2 separate regions of the Homo sapiens genome follow, and region 1 is linked to region 2. A link means that fine-mapping ties the variant in region 2 to the expression of a gene that starts in the linked region. Tissue or cell type: whole blood. Region 2 holds a variant in brackets; the other region holds the start of a gene. All regions are shown on one strand. Distances are from middle to middle.

Evidence for each region. PIP is the estimated chance that this variant, and not a neighbour inherited with it, causes the effect.
Region 1: it holds the start of ZNNT1, and the variant in region 2 is fine-mapped to the expression of ZNNT1 in whole blood (TOPMed, PIP above 0.99).

Annotation. Positions count from the first base shown.
Region 1 is chr8:101,167,182-101,175,365 of GRCh38, forward strand. It overlaps ZNNT1 (ZNF706 neighboring transcript 1), which reads right to left and starts at 3,058. Exons shown (of 1, transcript NR_164368.1): 1 at 1-3,058. RefSeq lists an enhancer at 100-299.
Region 2 is chr8:101,195,204-101,203,387 of GRCh38, forward strand. ZNF706 (zinc finger protein 706) reads right to left here. Exons shown (of 4, transcript NM_016096.5): 2 at 6,404-6,540; 3 at 4,787-4,894; 4 at 1,849-4,036. The coding sequence starts at 6,538. The coding sequence ends at 4,799. Among named protein-coding and RNA genes, the nearest start is that of ZNF706, 6.4 kb to the right of the region's middle. The variant T/C (reference allele first, on the strand shown) is at 3,882.

The DNA.
Region 1 (8,184 bases), 28 kb before region 2:
CTAACAGTGCTCCCCAGCTGCCTTCTGACAGACGCATATACCAGCTGACACATCCGGGAGCACACAGCTCACCTGTGTGTGCACAGGGCAGAGCCAAGCCGGGTTTATTCTCATCACGTTGTCGCTCCCACAGCCGCTCCTTCCAGTTCATTCTCACTGCTTCCATCGGGGCTACTGTGGTAGTCTGCCTGTCTTCGGGGCCTCCACCCCCACCCCACCTACAACCACACCGCCATTGAGGCTTAAAGGCTGACCTTTACCATCCACCCTTGAGGTGTACATTCTTACCATTTTTCTTGATCATTTTCAGAAGCGGAGGACACTCTCAAGTCCGCCCATTCCTTCTTGAAGGGTTCTAAGTTTTTCTATTAAACCCAAATCTGTGTTTCTCATAACATCCTCTCGGCTGAGATATAACTAATTAATCAGCTCCCTCTTCTAGAGCGTTTTCCTCACATAGAATTCTTTCTCTTTGTGGCAGACTGGTAATTCTCCTCCACATTGTCTGTTTCACCCTTCTTCAAAAGCAACAGTTTTAGCTGGGTTTGGGGTTACCTAGCATAAGACCATATTTCCTAGAGTTCTTTCTGCTGGGTGTGGCCATGTGACTAAGCTCAGGCCGATGTTATAGGAATAGAAGACATGTAAGCAACTTCCTGGTGATGTTTTTTTGTTTTGTTTTTTAAAGAGATGGGGTCTCACTATGTTGCCCAGGCTGGAGTGAGGTGGTGTGATCATGGCTCACTGTATCCTCCAACTCCTGTGCTCAAGTGATCCTTCCACCTCAGCCTCCTGAGTAGCTGGGACTATAGGTGCACACCACCACACATGGTTAATTTTTAAATTTTTTGTAGAGACAAGGTCTTGCTTTCTTATCCAAGCTGGTCTCAAACTCCTGGCTTCAAGCTATCCTCCAGCCTCGACCTCCCAAAGTGCTTGGATTACAGATGTGAGTCACTGCACCTGGCCTGGCTATGTCCTTAAAATGACTGGGTGGTACGTCTAGTTCTCTTTCTCCCGTTTTTCTGCCTGGGAGATGATGAGAACTGGAGCGGTCATCCTGAGCTTACAAGGGGAAGCCTTGTGTTGAGGAGGGCTGATTAACTGGACTTGGACCACCTGCCTACCTCGACCGTTGTGAGAAAAATTAACTGCATTGTGGTAAATCCTTTGCATTTTGGACTCTTTCTTACAGCAGCTTAGCCTGTACCTCACCTCCACTTATGAGCCTACTCATTCTGCAAATATTTCACCAGCCTAGAAAGAGCTTCTCCATCCTCTGAATCCAAAGCCCTTTGACCTGCCTCTTGTGTTTGGCCTCACTATTTACCTGGTACTACATTTGTCTGTGCATGAATCTTACCTGCTCTTTGCAGGCCAAAGAGGACAGGGGTAAAAGCTTAATCGCTTTCTATTACACAATGCCTAGCATATTGCCTTGGACAATGATTGGTTCCCAATAAATGTGTTGAATGAAGAAAGATGATTCTTCATTGTCTGTATACATGAATGAATTATAACAAAATTAGAAGCTAGTGATATTTGATTAAATAACCATATCTAAAAACTACTAGATAAGAGATTACTGTCAAGCTAGAGAATGAGGTGCCAAGTTGGCAAGCTACTGGTTTTTCTCCTGTTCAACATTTGTATCAACAACTTCAATGAACGATAGTCAATATACCCATTGTGCCTGTGGATAACACAACGGGAAGCCAAAAAAAAAAAAAAAAAACTAGATAAGAGAGTCAAAAATCAAAAAGATCTGTACAGACAAGAATAATGGATGAAAATTAAACATTAACAGAAAAGTTCTGAATATCAGTTCAAAAGTAGGCAAAGGGAAATAATGGAAGAGAAGTAGTTTAATTAAAGACTATGAAAAAGGCTTAAGGATTTTATTTGATTGGAAGTCTGGTATCAGTTAAGAATACAATGTGTTGGCCAAAAAATCCTAGTGCAATTCCAGGCTGAATACATTCATTCAGCAATGATTTATTGGGTGTCTACTAAGTGCTTGGTGTTGTGTGGAAAACAAGGATGAAGGTGTGGCCCCTGCTTTCGAGCAGCTTACAAAAGTGACATGTGTTCCTCCTAGACCACAAAGTAGAAAGCATTTGGTGCTGCAAAGTAAAAGAGACAGGAAAGGTCGGCACATGTATGATGAAGGGGAAGAGTGGGCTTGTGGAGAAGCACAAGGAATGATAAGGTAGGGAAGATATTTCAGTGCCAGTCTGTAGTAGGTCCTTAGTGCCAGGCCAAGAAGATTGGAAGTTATGTGAGGGGATGAGGAAATGAAAGATTTTGCAGCCAAAAAAAAAAAAAAAAAAGATGGTCAGTGTTTTAGGAAGATTTCTTTGGAAGCAGTCTGTTGGACAAATTGGAGTGGGGAGACACACACACAGAGGCTTATACTTGGCATCATTTCAAAGATTGATGTTCTTGTTCCTCATCTTCATTCTATAAGTGGAGAAAGTGAAGCTGAAGGTTTAAATGATGTCCCTAAAGACACAGAGCTGACAGGGGTATGCAGAAGCAGAATCCAGGATGGTGCTTCTGGGTCCAGTGGGTGATAAACCAATGGCAATTAGACCTTGCACAGTTGTTGGAGTTTAGAAAAACATTTCTGGAGGGACTTAAGGAAACCAGTTAAGAGATCATTTCCACAGGCAAAGTAAAAAATATTGAGCACTGAAAGTGGAAAGAGGGTCAGCTGGGGGAGAAACTGCTCTGATGCTGTGGGTTGAGAGGGAAGGAAGCAAGGCAAAGAGGACTTGGAGACAGAAGGACAGCAGTGGGATGAATGACCATGGGGAATACAAGGATGAAAAAGCAACTTGGAGGAGTACCATTTTGAGTGGGGCCAATTTTTTTTTTCTTTTTGAGACGGAGTTTCGCTCTTGTTGTCCAGGCTAGAGTGCAATGAAGCGATCTTGGCTCACCACAACCTCAGCTTCCCGGGCTCAAGCGATTCTCCTGCCTTAGCCTCCCAAGTAGGTGGGATTACAAGCACGTGCCACCATGTCTGCCTAATTTTGTATTTTTAGTAGAGATGGGGTTTCTTCATGTTGGTCAGGCTGGTCTTGAACTCCCCACCTCAGGTGATCCACCCGCCTCAGCCTCCCAAAGTGCCGGGATTACAGGCGTGAGCCACCGTGCCCAGCAACAGAGATTCTAGTGGGGCCCATTTTAACAGAAGGGGCACTGGAAATGAATGTGTCCAGAAGAAGGTAACTGGAAAGCAAATTGCAGGAATGAGAGAAGGAACTGCTTAGTCTGGGAAAGCCTAAGTTATTTGCAGAATTGAATTGAAAAGATTTCCGGGGAGAACAGATAGCTAGCATCCTACATCTGTAGAGCTTTTACAGAACAATGTTAAGTTGCCTCCTAACGAGCTTTAGCATGGCACCAGTGGAAGGCACTGTTAGATGGCAGCAATGCAGAGTTGTGGAAAGGCCAAGGGGCAGAAGATTTGAGGCAGATCAGCTCCTATCTGTGAAGCAGTATAGTGGGAGGAGCACAGACTTTGGAGTCACACAGACCTGGGTTCTAGTCCCAGCCTACCTCTACCAGCTATGTGACCTTGGGGAAGTTGCTGAACCTCTTTGTGCCTCAGTTTCCATATGTACAAAATAAAGAGGCTAGATTGGAAGACTTCCAAGATCTTGTCTAGCTATAAAATTCCTTGGTTCTAAAAAGGTGGCTTATGTGCATAAAATAAATAGATGGAAATACAGTATTATCTTCTTTGGATTTTGCTCTCAAATCTGTACTAATATTGGTTATCAAGTATGCACAGCCAGCCTGCTTCTGTTGCACTGCATGATGGCATGTAATGATGGAACAGAGCTGACATGTTCACAAAAGCACTTTTCTCTGTGGGTAGGAGTGGAAAATAGTTCCATTTAGCTGATATCACTAATTTTTAAAGAAAACCATATGAGCTAAAGAGAACTGAAGATGAATGTGGGAGCTATGAGTCAACCACTGAATCTCAGCTGCATTAATTTTACATTATAAATGACACAGTTTTAAAGTTTCTTAGATTTTATAATAGTTGAAATTTTTCTTTAAAAGAGTACACCCTATACATGCCGATACACGTTAAAAAGATTGAACATTTCTTCCCATTCTAAAGCATCTTGAAAACAATGACTGTGCTGTTAGCGATTTTTAATATAAAATACATTTCCTAGCAGTGTTATAAACCGCTAACAGCACTTTTTGTGAAAATTGGCTACTTCATACAAAAAAAACCTCACAGTTTTTGTTATCTTTGTAGGATTTTCTTCCCCCTTTTTGAATTGTTTTATAATGGATAATGTTGCTTAAAAACATCCAGCATTTCCATGAGAAATGAAATATTCAGAAGACTTCTGGATAAGTGATATTTATACATAGTTCCTTTAATCTTAAATACCTAACTCTTAAATAGCATATAAGAGAAATTGTTTTCCTTTACCGTCGTAGATTAAAAGTGGCATCACAAATTTTCAGGTAGGAAACTAAAATATAAGACCTAGAGATTATATAAGAAAGATCCACACTGGCCATCCTTACCTCAAAGCAAACTAAGACCCAGAGGCAGAGAAGAATTTCAAAGCCTGACTTAGAGGATTGTGGAAAATAATTATATCAAATCAAAGTTTAGGACAATCTTGGACCATGGAAAGAAGAAAAGAACATTTAGCACATTGTTAAAAATAGATACTCATTCTCTTTTAACCATAGACAGTTCTTTAACATCTTACATTAGCAACACAGACAGACTGGATCCAGTTTCAGTTCATTCTGTCACTTAACCATTCCACGACTCAATTTTTTCATCACCAAAATGGGGGCGATATTATTTCCTAGCAGGCTAAGTGTGCAGCTGACATGTGACGATGTGTGTGCAGTCCTTTGTAAATTATACAGCACTTCAAACACAGAGGTCTGCTGTTATGGGTCAAGACTGTCAGGAGAGCTCATGGTTAATGCGAATGACCCGGAAACGACTCGTAGCTGTTTAACACACATGTTTTTGGTATCAAAACTGCAAGCGGGATTGAGTTTGAAAGAGCATTATTAAGAGAAAACAATCTGCTCTGCAGATTCCAACTGTGATGTGGTGCCTGTTTCTTGGCACAGACCTCCCACTTAAACTAATTAAAGTTCCACACAGGTAGAAAATGAATGCTTGACTTGAGATCTGCCATGTGGACCTAAAAGATGGAATTGTCTATGGCTCTTTTATTTCGGTTAAAAGAAAGCAGCATTTGCTTTGTTTAAAAAAGAAAATGGGGGGAGGGGAATGTATGTGGGTTTGTTTAAATGCTGAAGAAAACTGTTCTAAGCAGCTGGATGAATAAAAGGGAGGAGCACTAAAGAAAGAATGCGCTAAATCTAAAGATACAAGAACAACACCCAGGAATTGATTGAAAATGCTTTGGTGACAAGTGAGGCATGTAATGACAAGAAAGCAGCATGTGTGCATATTGAGGAGTGCATGTGGAAAACAGGTTTCTCCTTTTAATTAGCTTTGCCGCTGGGAGGACCTTCTCTCTCCACTTTCTGTCCAGCTCTTCCATCCCAGAATTCCACTCTGGGTTCTTGTGATGTGCTAACGAGGCTGCAGGGCAGCTCTGATTGAGTGGGCCAATAATACTGGCTCAAGGCCACCTAGAGAAGTGTTCTCCCCAGCCTGACAGATGCCCTTTAAAGAAAAACCTGGAAGAGCACCAGCCTTTTTGATGGTGGCTTAGATACTTGAAGCCCGATGTCATTCTTTGGGTGAGATAATGATTCTTTCCTGCCTGGCCCACCTATAGCCCCTTCTGAAATTTAAAATTTTTCAGGAATATGTTGGAAAGTCTACTAGTTTTTCTCCAATGTCTGCCCTCCTTCTTTATTGATAGAATCTCAGTTTTTACTGATTGTACAAAATAAAGACATTTCCCAGCCTTCCTTGCAGCTGGAATGTGTGTGTGTGTGTGTGTGTGTGTGTGTGTGTGTATGTAAGGGGAAGTGCTGGGTGCAGCCTCTGGGGTGGGGTTATTCCTATCCTCCTCTTTCCTGCCTGGACCATGCAGATGAGGGCCATCCCCTAGAGATAATGAAGCAATAAGATGGGAGATACCTGGCAGTCCTTGACACCATGGACCCGCCATACTAGTCTTTGGCTGCAAACTCTCACGCTGTCATGGAAGATAAATAAACCTCAATACTGCTTAAGCCATTGAAACTTTAGGTCTCTGTTGCACACAGATGAACCCATAGTCCAACAAATGTATCTTCTTGACTAAATCTTACCTTCTTACTCTGATGATTTATATTCAGAGAATAAATTTAACTTTGTCTATATCTGGGGTAAAAAAGAACAGCTCTTCAATAAATCTGCTTCTCTCCAAAAATATTCCAGAAAATTCATGTGATTGGAAAACTGGGCTACTTAGTAGAAGTAAAAAAAAAATTTTTTTTTTCAGGGGATTCTTTGGGAAGCAAAGATCTCCAAAATTCAGTCTCCGTTATGTCTGCAGAATGCACTTAGTACATGTTTGGTCAATTCAACGTTCGTTGGTGAAATTGGCCAGCAAAGCTTGCAGAAACAGAGAATGTGAATGCACAGTGCATGACGGTGGGCTGAGCTTTGGACATCAACAGGGGAATAAAAATCAGTTCAGCTCTTGCTAAAATAGTTTTCCATTGTCTGAATCAGAACTGAGCACAAATGAGTCACCAAAGTTAAAGCTGAAAAACAACTAAGTTGGACTAAGAGTCCAATAAGCCAAAGCCAAGTCTGTTATATATTATTTTATGGAATTATGGGGATAAAGAGGCTTTAGAAAAGAGTAATGTGGAAGAATCTATGTTGGGCTTGTGTGTATATCTCAAGAAGTTTTCAAAAGTTCATGGAAAATATATATTATGAGAAAACTATGCATGTATTCAAATTTTTTTTTTTTTTTTGCCAGATAAACTCATACTAACTTTTTATAACATGTCTGAACAGAATCTAGTGTGAGGCTCCCAGAAGGGTAAGACATCAGCTTGAAAACAGCCCCTGTGAGAGGAACATGAATTTTGCTAAAATTGAAGCAAGAACAAATGTGTCAAGTTTACGGTGACACTTGAGTGAAAGAATGGTGAAACCACTGATGCTTTATGAAAACTTTAGGAGTATAATGTCCCAAAGAAATCAGCAATTTACAAATGGGTAACTCGTTTTAAGAAGGGATGAGATGATGTTGAAGATGAAGCCCATAGTGGCAAGCCATCCACATCAATTTGTGAGGAAAAAATTCATCTTTTTCATGCCCTAGTTAAAGAGGACTGATAATTAACAGCAGAAACAATAGTCAACACCACAGACAACTCAATTGATTCAGCTTACACAATTCTGACTGAAAAAATCAAAGTTGAGCAAACTTTCCCACAATGTATGCCAAAACCATTGCTTCTAGATCATCTGCAGACAAAAGCAGAGCTTTCAATGAAAATTGGAAACAAGTAACATCAAGATCCTGAAGCATTTCTTTGAAGTAACAAGAGATGAAATATGGCTTTACCAGTACAATCCTGAAGACAAAGCACAATCAAAGCAATGGCTACCAAGAGGTGTTAAGTGCTCCAGTCAAAGCAAAAGTATACTAGTCAAGAGCTAAGGTCATGGCAACAGTTTTTTGGGATGGTCAAGGCATTTTGCTTGTTGATTTTCCGTAGGGCCAACGAATGATAACATCTGCTTATTATGAGAGTGTTTTGAAAACATTAGCCAAAGACTTAGCAGAAAAACACCCAGGAAACCTTCACCTGAGAATCCTCCTCCACCATGACAATGCTCCTGTTCATTCCTCTCATCAAACAAGAGCAATTTTATGAGAGTTTTCATGTTAGGCATCCACCTTACAGTCCTGATTTGGCACCTTCTGACTTCTTTTTATTTCTTATCTTAACAAATCTTTACAGGGCACCCATTTTTCTTCAGTAATAATGCAAAAAAAAAAAAAAAAGAAAGAAAAAGAAAGAAATGGTTGCACTGACATTGTTAAATTCCCAGGTCCCTCAGTTCTTTAGGGATGGACTAAATGATGGCTAGTATCATTGCTCACAAGAGTGTCTTGAACTTGATGGAGCTTATGTTGAGAAATTTTTATTTCGTATTTTTATCTTTTATTTCAATTTTTCTACAAACTTTTTGAAGTC
Region 2 (8,184 bases):
CTCCCCATACTTCCAGGCACAGACTGCCCTCTTCAACCCAAAGCCATCCTATATACACATAAACGCACACATGTACATATACCTCATTAAGTTATTGTCTATAAAACACACCAAGCACTTGGCCATATAGCCTAAAATTATGTAAATAAATATATGTATTATCTCCAGAATGCATCTGAATTTCCAAAGATTAGGGAACTTTGCTATATTTCTTTGTATAATACATTGCTTTTATATAATACTTTACAGCTCACAATGCAACTTCACATATATGATTTTCAATAAATACCTTAGTGACTTAAACTTCTCAAAGAGTTCATCCTAGAAAGATCTGGGATAAAGATATTCTTCCTCCCTACAACCCTCAAATAATATTAGTTAATGACAGAATTAACAATTACTTCATACTGAAGATATTCCCATGTGAATATAAAGAAATGACCAAAGTCTGTCTCCGAATGTGCAGATTTTAAATTTGGAGCCATACGGTATTCAAAGAATAGAAGCTAAAAAATGGCTATTCAAAAAAAAAAAAAAGAAGGATACCTCAGTAAAAAAAACTTATCAAAACAACATTTAAAATAAAAAATATTTTCAATTTAACATGGCAATCTACAATTAAAAATGACAGGTTGAACTTTTATTTAAAAAAGTCTATTTTCTTTGTTAAGTAGACAGATGTTTTCATTAAACCTACAAACTGAAGGCTCTTAAGATTTTTCTGAAACTTTTACAATAAATAAAATTAAGGTAGCCTAAACTATTTCAGAATGTGAAGTCACAGTAAACACAACTCCCTGGTGTTGATCTTCATTGCCATATACTGTTAAAAAGTACATGACCAAAAAAGTACTCTGACCAAAACTAAACCAAACACTTTCCAAAAAACCAGAAATCTAGTACAAATGAATTAATTCAGACTGGGTGGTTTAAATATAGTATTTCAGTTATAGTTTGGACTGTGTTTGATCACTGTGTTATAGAAAAAGGCCTTTATCCACATTTAAAAATAGGTACAGTATATTATATATATATATATATGGAGAGAGAGAGAGAGAGAGAGAGAGAGAGAGAGTGAGTCTCGCTCTGTTGCCCAGGCTGAAGTGCAATGGTAAGATCTTGGCTCACTGTAACCTCCGCCTCCCGGGTTCAAGCCATTCTCCTGCCTGAGCTTCCTGAGTAGCTGGGATTATAAGCATGTGCTACTAGGCCCCGCTAATTTTTGTATTTTTAGTAGAGATGGGGTCTTGCCATGTTGGCCAGGCTGGTCTCGAACTCCTGACCTCAAGTGATCCATCCACCTCAGCCTCCCAAAGTGCTGCGATTACAGGCGTGAGCCACTGCACCTGGCCACATTACATATATTAATGAAAATTAAAAACATGGGTTTTCCTAGGTAAAATAGTAATGTTGATAAATTCTATCTTATGCTGCATCTCAGGTTTGAATTATGATGTCATTAATTACCTATATAGTATCTTTAATATAAAACTAAAACTTCAAATCTTACAATATCATCAAGGACTTACCCATCCAATTCAATTAACTGACCTAAGTATTTTTCATAATTGTATTTTTATGTTAATAGCCAATCACTTCCCCCTTTCCAACAATTCACACTTATTCTATACAGTAAGGTTTCAAAATGACAAGTTTTTTTCCACCCAAGTATTCTACAGACCTCAAAAAGGGAAAGACTGCAGGGAAAACGAGAAATGAAAGAAATCTCTTGCTACCCTCAAATCTACCAACCTATACTTAAGAGCCAATTCTAAGCTCAGAAAGGAGAAAAAAAAAAGTGGGAATATAAAAACCTCTTAAAATGTAGAAGAAATTAGACTAGTTTAGTTTTCTTTAATATCTTCTTTAATAAGACATTACAGCACACAACTGAGCCCCCAGTGTGTCAGTTAAACATGGGGATGAATATCCATGTGAAGAGAATGGAAACAAGTTTAATCTTAACCCCATTCCTTTTGGCAAGTAATAGAAATACAGCATACAAATGGACCAATTCTCTCTCAGTGTTATTTTATCAAGTCTTTGAAGACACCATAACAGTTTTATAATGAACTTTGCTGCAATCTGTTAAAGAATCTTCAAATTAAATTACAGGGATGTTTGGTTTTTAACTCAAACACAGTAAAATGGGGATTGTACTAATAATCCCCTCATGAAGTATAAGGATGATTATGCTCATGTAAGATCAATGCAGCTATTTCCCTATCACTGAGATATAGTGTTAAATATGGTGTCTTCAGCTGCTTATAAAAAAGGGTTAAATACAAGAACAAAAAAACTTTCATCCTGAATTAGTCACTAAAACAAACGAAAAAAAAAAAACCAAAACTTGTGAATGGTTTTATATGATTTGTCACTAAACATATACATATGCTCAAAGCACTTTTAAAAACTTTTAAGTTGTGATTTAACCAGAACTTCTGCAATATCCACAAGAAATTAGGTAAAATTCTAACGTTCTGGTAATCGACATGTTAGGAAACAACAGATATTACATCTGAAACTTAGGAAATAAAATACACAAAATAAAAGGACTATTTTAAAGTAAGGGCATAAGAATAGGAATTGCTAAGAAACTATCAGCCCTGAAGCTTTTCCTTGGAAACGTCTTAAACTTACAGGGAAGACAAGGTGGGCAAAATATGCAGAGCTACAAAACAAAGCAATGATAAGCTACAGCAGAAGAGGGAATGCATTCTGTAATCCACAGGATCAGATAAATGGCTCTAAGCAGTTACCAGTAAGTATTTTAGTGTTCTTTCTATTATATTAATTTAAAAATTTAAACCGAGTTAACAGCAGTTTTACAAGTTAAGAGTTGACACAAGCAAATTAGAAGAACTCTAAAATTAGCCTTCCTTAATTGGGTAAGATTTACCATATCCATCTGAACAAACCCATTTTCCCATCCTGAGATCTAAAAGAATGTGAATATTGACCCATTTTAATACTTTTCAAGTTCAGATGGAAGTCATACTGTACACCAGTCTCTGATTTTAGGTAACAGCACAAAGCAAACTCCTAAAATCAACAACTCACTTAGAAAAGAAAGGAGGGAGAGGGTTCTGGGAATTAATCCAGCCACAAGTCATTCCAATCTTCCTGTTAATGCAAAATCCATTTGTAAAAATGGCCAAATAGTAACTTCCAAAAACCTCAAAAATTAATGTTTCAATTTCAAATTAAAGAACTTCAAGAATTTTCAAAGAATATAGTATCAAGATCGACCTTTACCAGTTCACATTTGTTCCATATTTTGCATTAAACAATAGGCTTAATGATTATTTCATTACGGCATATACATTAGAACCTAACCTTTCACAAGGGCTCACTGACAATCCAACCGCTTTTAGGAAGCTATCAGTTATCTACAGGGTACACCTGACTGGCAGTTAGAGCCAGGTCATACTGCAATTTTAAATATTCCAACTCAAACACAGGAAATGATCAGAGGGGTACAATGACACATAACCGCAATATACTAAGGCAGCAGATAAGTCATTTTTCACCTAGATCATCAGCTGCCCATAAAATCGTATGCACAATTTTAATGAATCAGTCTGCTCTAGTTTAACTGAGGAACCTGCCACTGAGCAGAGAAAGGGATATAAGAATTGCACTTGCAATTCTAGCTGATGAATTCATTAGATTTTTATAAGGCAAATAATGTGGAAAGTTAGAACAGAATTTCTAAAACCATTTATCCTGTGATGTCGTAAATCAAAGTACTATTTTATTAAATGAGTTATTTTACACAATATGAACATCAATATAATTACAATTGTAAAAAAATTTTTTATAACAAGGATGGACTGATTTTCATATTTCCAAATCAGAGTCAACTGTACATTTACACAGAA[T/C]TGTCTTTGCATGAAGCCCAAGAGGGAACAGCATAAAAATGAGTGTTTCTGTAGCCCCTTTATTTTTGCTGATCAACAGTTTGTTAGAAAAGCAGCTGCAGGTATGTTACCTAAGGTCTGAGACAGTAGAAGAGTCAAAGGTGTCATGAATTCACCTATAAAACATAAGCAAAATTTTCAATGAATGTTACCATTGCACAAATGCAACTTACATGCATTTCAAATAACTAAGAAGAAACACTATGAAGATAATATCTGGTAAACTTGTCAACTCGACTTTATATACAGAACTCTGAAGAATTTATTTTAAAAAGAAAGAATTCTGAAACACACAACACACCCACCACCAACTCCACTATTTAGGGGGAAAAAATCCAACCAAATGTAATGTGTAAAGTGATAACTTTCAACCAACAAATTTATAAACAAATTTATATAGCACATATCTACATCTACATTTTGCCCTATATTTTAATACTCAGAAGCTTTGCTAAGGGGATAGGTTGGGGGAGAAAAAAAAGAACCTCTGCTAAGTACTATAAGTAAACTAATTGTAAAGAGGTGCTCAGGAACATTGGTGTACATTGTTTTTAGAGGGAAACTCTCAAATAACTTTGTAATCACTATTTTCTTTAAACTGATAAGTTCCTTCCATTCTTTGATCAGAGATGGCTAGCATGTACTCATCTCCCCATTTTTGGCTACAGTAGTAAAAATTTGGATGTTTCAAAGGCATTGAAAGGAAATAGTCTGAGAAAAAGGGACTTTTCAGTTACACATTAACTTAAAAAGGGGAAGCAATAAAATCTCAGAAGGCAGAAATTAATTTCACAATAAGTGAAGACAGTTTTGGTCTTGTATACAACCCTGTTATTAACAAACCAATAGAAAAAGAGGTGAGTTACCTGTAAACAACCTTATGCCTGAACATCAGCTAATTCTGGAGGAAGTGGAGTCTTAGGATGCTTGCTCTCAAAGTGCTGCTTGAAGGTCTTAGGGTCTGGCATTTGTGTCTAACAAAAAATTGTGCAAAAGAGAGCTAGACTTTATTTATAAAATAAAAATGTGTTACTTTTTAGAATCCTGAACCTTCTCAGTATAGACAATTATCCCAAAAACACCTTTAAATTCCTACAACTTAGTGACTGGCATATGAAGAGGGACTTTGTGGTAAAGAAATTCCTAACGTTCCCACATTTCACCTATAAAGAAAGGTAGGTCACATAGAATGTATTCTGCTTATCTGATTAACAGCAAACAATAGGTAACATTTACTGAACCCTTATTATATTAAGCATGTTACCTTAATTCCCACAGAACCTTCAAAGTAATCTTTAGCTCCTACTAGCATCATTTTACCTGATAAGGAAACTAAAACCCAGAGTTTAATTTGCCCAAGACCTTATTTTAACTTAGTACTAGATATGTGACCTCTCAAATACTATACTATACTGACTTCCCTTGGCAAGAACCTTCAATTATTTATTCTTAACCCATTAAATTACACAAAATATGAAATAAAAGTCTGTGGTTTTGAGTTTTTAAATATATGTAACTACTCTACCACATTTAGATTAAGGTATTTCTTCATTACTAGTTGATTAAAATTTGCACCCTGCCTCTTTCCAAACAATCACAAGCTGCTCAATTTCATTATTTTGAGTGTATATGTAGTGTACTAACTCCACTATGGTTTCCTTTGGTACTGCCACTCACTAACTTCAAGGGTAATGAGCTTAAACAAACAGGCAAGAGGCTCTGATTTGGAATTTCAGAAGTACTTCTTTGAGAGGCAGTACAGTAGTGGTCCAGAGGGTGGACTCTGGAGCTGAACTGCCTGAGTTCAGATTCCAGCTCTTCTACTAACCAGCTGGGAGACCCCACACAAATTGTTTAATTTCCATTAGTCAGTTTACTCTTCTGTAAAATGAGAACAATAAAAGTACTTTATCTTATAGGGTTGTTATGTGGATTAAATAGGTGAATACATGTAAAACACCTGGCTCTATGTGTGGCATATGGTAAGCACTCAAAAGTAGCTGTTATTATTACAGTTCTTCAAATCTAATACAACACATTAATTCTAGGAAAAGCTCTCAACGTGATTATACTCTATATGGTTTTACAGACATCCTAATTATAAATTTAGTGAAGAAAAAACCAATTATATAACTAGAGGTATACTTACTAGCATATTATATAGCTCTAAGAGTGTAGAGTTATATGATGTGCTAGTGAAGTGTATTATATGCCCTTATGAAGACATCTTTATTTTATATGAGGAAAGCAATTTTGTTTTGTTCACTCTGTTTTCCCAGCACCTAGAGATTTTTGCCTGGCCACAGGAGCCATTCAAAAAATATTTGTTTAAAGGGTGAATGAAAATAGATACCTAAAATAATCAGCTCTCAAACCTACTATTTCATGTAAAGCATCTATTTTGCCATGGTTTCAAAATTTTAATCTATTCAAGCCAAAACTGCCCACGGGAGAGCTGTATCTTTCAATTCAATTCCCCTTACCCTACAGACAGTGCAGGTATATATTAAGGCAGCTTTGGCAGCAGCCTTTTGGTCATGTCCTTGTTTCTTCTTTTGTCCAGCTTGCTTTTTGGCATTTTTCTGCTGAGACTGAATTTTCTGCTGTCCACGAGCCATATCTAAAAACAGAAGGTGAAGCATTAGAGTGGCTTATTTACTCTAATACAGAGTAATCAAAGCATAAGAACGTTCTTAGAATTGAAGCCTTAAGTTTTATAGAAATATCTGGCAAATAAAAATTTATAGGTATTAAAATTCCCACATATAAATGCTACAAAAGTATCAATTGACACAACCCTGTGGAAAACTAGTTGGTAGCTGTTTATTCTATGAGCCAGCAATTCCACTCTTGGTATATACCCAATAGAAATGCAAATGTTATGTACACCAAGACATGTACAAAATGTTCTGAGTGCCCATTCCAAAACTGGAAAAAATCTGAATGCCCATCAATAGTAACACGGATGCACAACTTGTATACATATTTTTATAGTATTTATACAACGGAATACTACCCAGCATTTAAAAAATTGTGGCCAGGCGCGGTGGCTCACGCCTGTAATCCCAGCACTTTGGAAAGCCAAGGCGGGTGGATCATGAGGTCAGGAGTTCAAGACCAGCCTGGCCAAGATGGTGAAACCCTGTCTCTACTAAAAATACAAAAAAAAAAAAAAAAAAAAAAAATTAGGCAGGCATGGTGGTAGGCACCTGTAATTCCAGCTACTTGGGAGGCTGAGGTGGAGAATTGCTTGAATCCGGGAGGCAGAGGTTGCAGTGACGCGTGATGGCACCACTGCACTGCAGCCTGGGCGACAGTGAGACTCTGGTCTCAAAAATAAATAAACAAACACACAAACAAAAAATTGTTACAAGTAACAACTTGGTTGTATCTCAATGTTAAAGGAAAGAAGCCAGTTGTGGGGAATATACATTATTTAAAGTTCAAAACAGGCAAAGCTAATCTATAGTGAAAGGGGTCACCTTGGGGGTTATGGGTAATGACTGGGAAGACAGGACATGAAGGGGACTTATGGGGTCCTGAAAATGTTCTTGAATCAAGTGTGTTTACTTATAAAAATTCATTGAATTGTACACTCAAGATTTATGCACTTTACTGTATGTAATCTTCACAAGTTTACTAAAAAAGTTTAGCCCCCGCTATCATTTACTTGATCACTCTGCAAAAGTAATTTCCCTTCCCAGTATTCATTGTGACTTGCGATTGTGATTTTTATAACTTTAAGAGAAATAAAAGCTGTCTGTTACTCCTTCTAAAGGAGACCTCAGAAATAGGTGGAAACTGTTTTCTTACTTAGTTTTCATAAAACTACTGTTATTAATTTTTTTAAAAAGTTGGTCTTGCTGGATTGCTGAACAAATTATAAAATGAGATTATCAGCAAGCCACTAATTCCAGAAGTTTCTTTGCTCTCTAGACGTTAGTTCCCATTTGAGGGAATGAACTTGGTTAAGAGGGTTCTTTTACAAAGCTGAAAGATACCACTTTTTGTTACCGATGATCTGACGTGAACCCAAATGGATTAAAACAAAAAAAAAAATCAAGTCACTGAAAAAAGTTACTTTTACTTTTCCATTTAAATTAAAGGCTTTTATTCGACCACACAAGTTAAACCTGCTCATAAAGTCTATCATGAGTCTCAATTGCTTTTTAAATATATCAAAATTGGATCCTAAGTAGAATTCATATATATATAGTTTTGACTAGTACTGTAACTGAATGTAAATCATTGCAGGACAGGAACA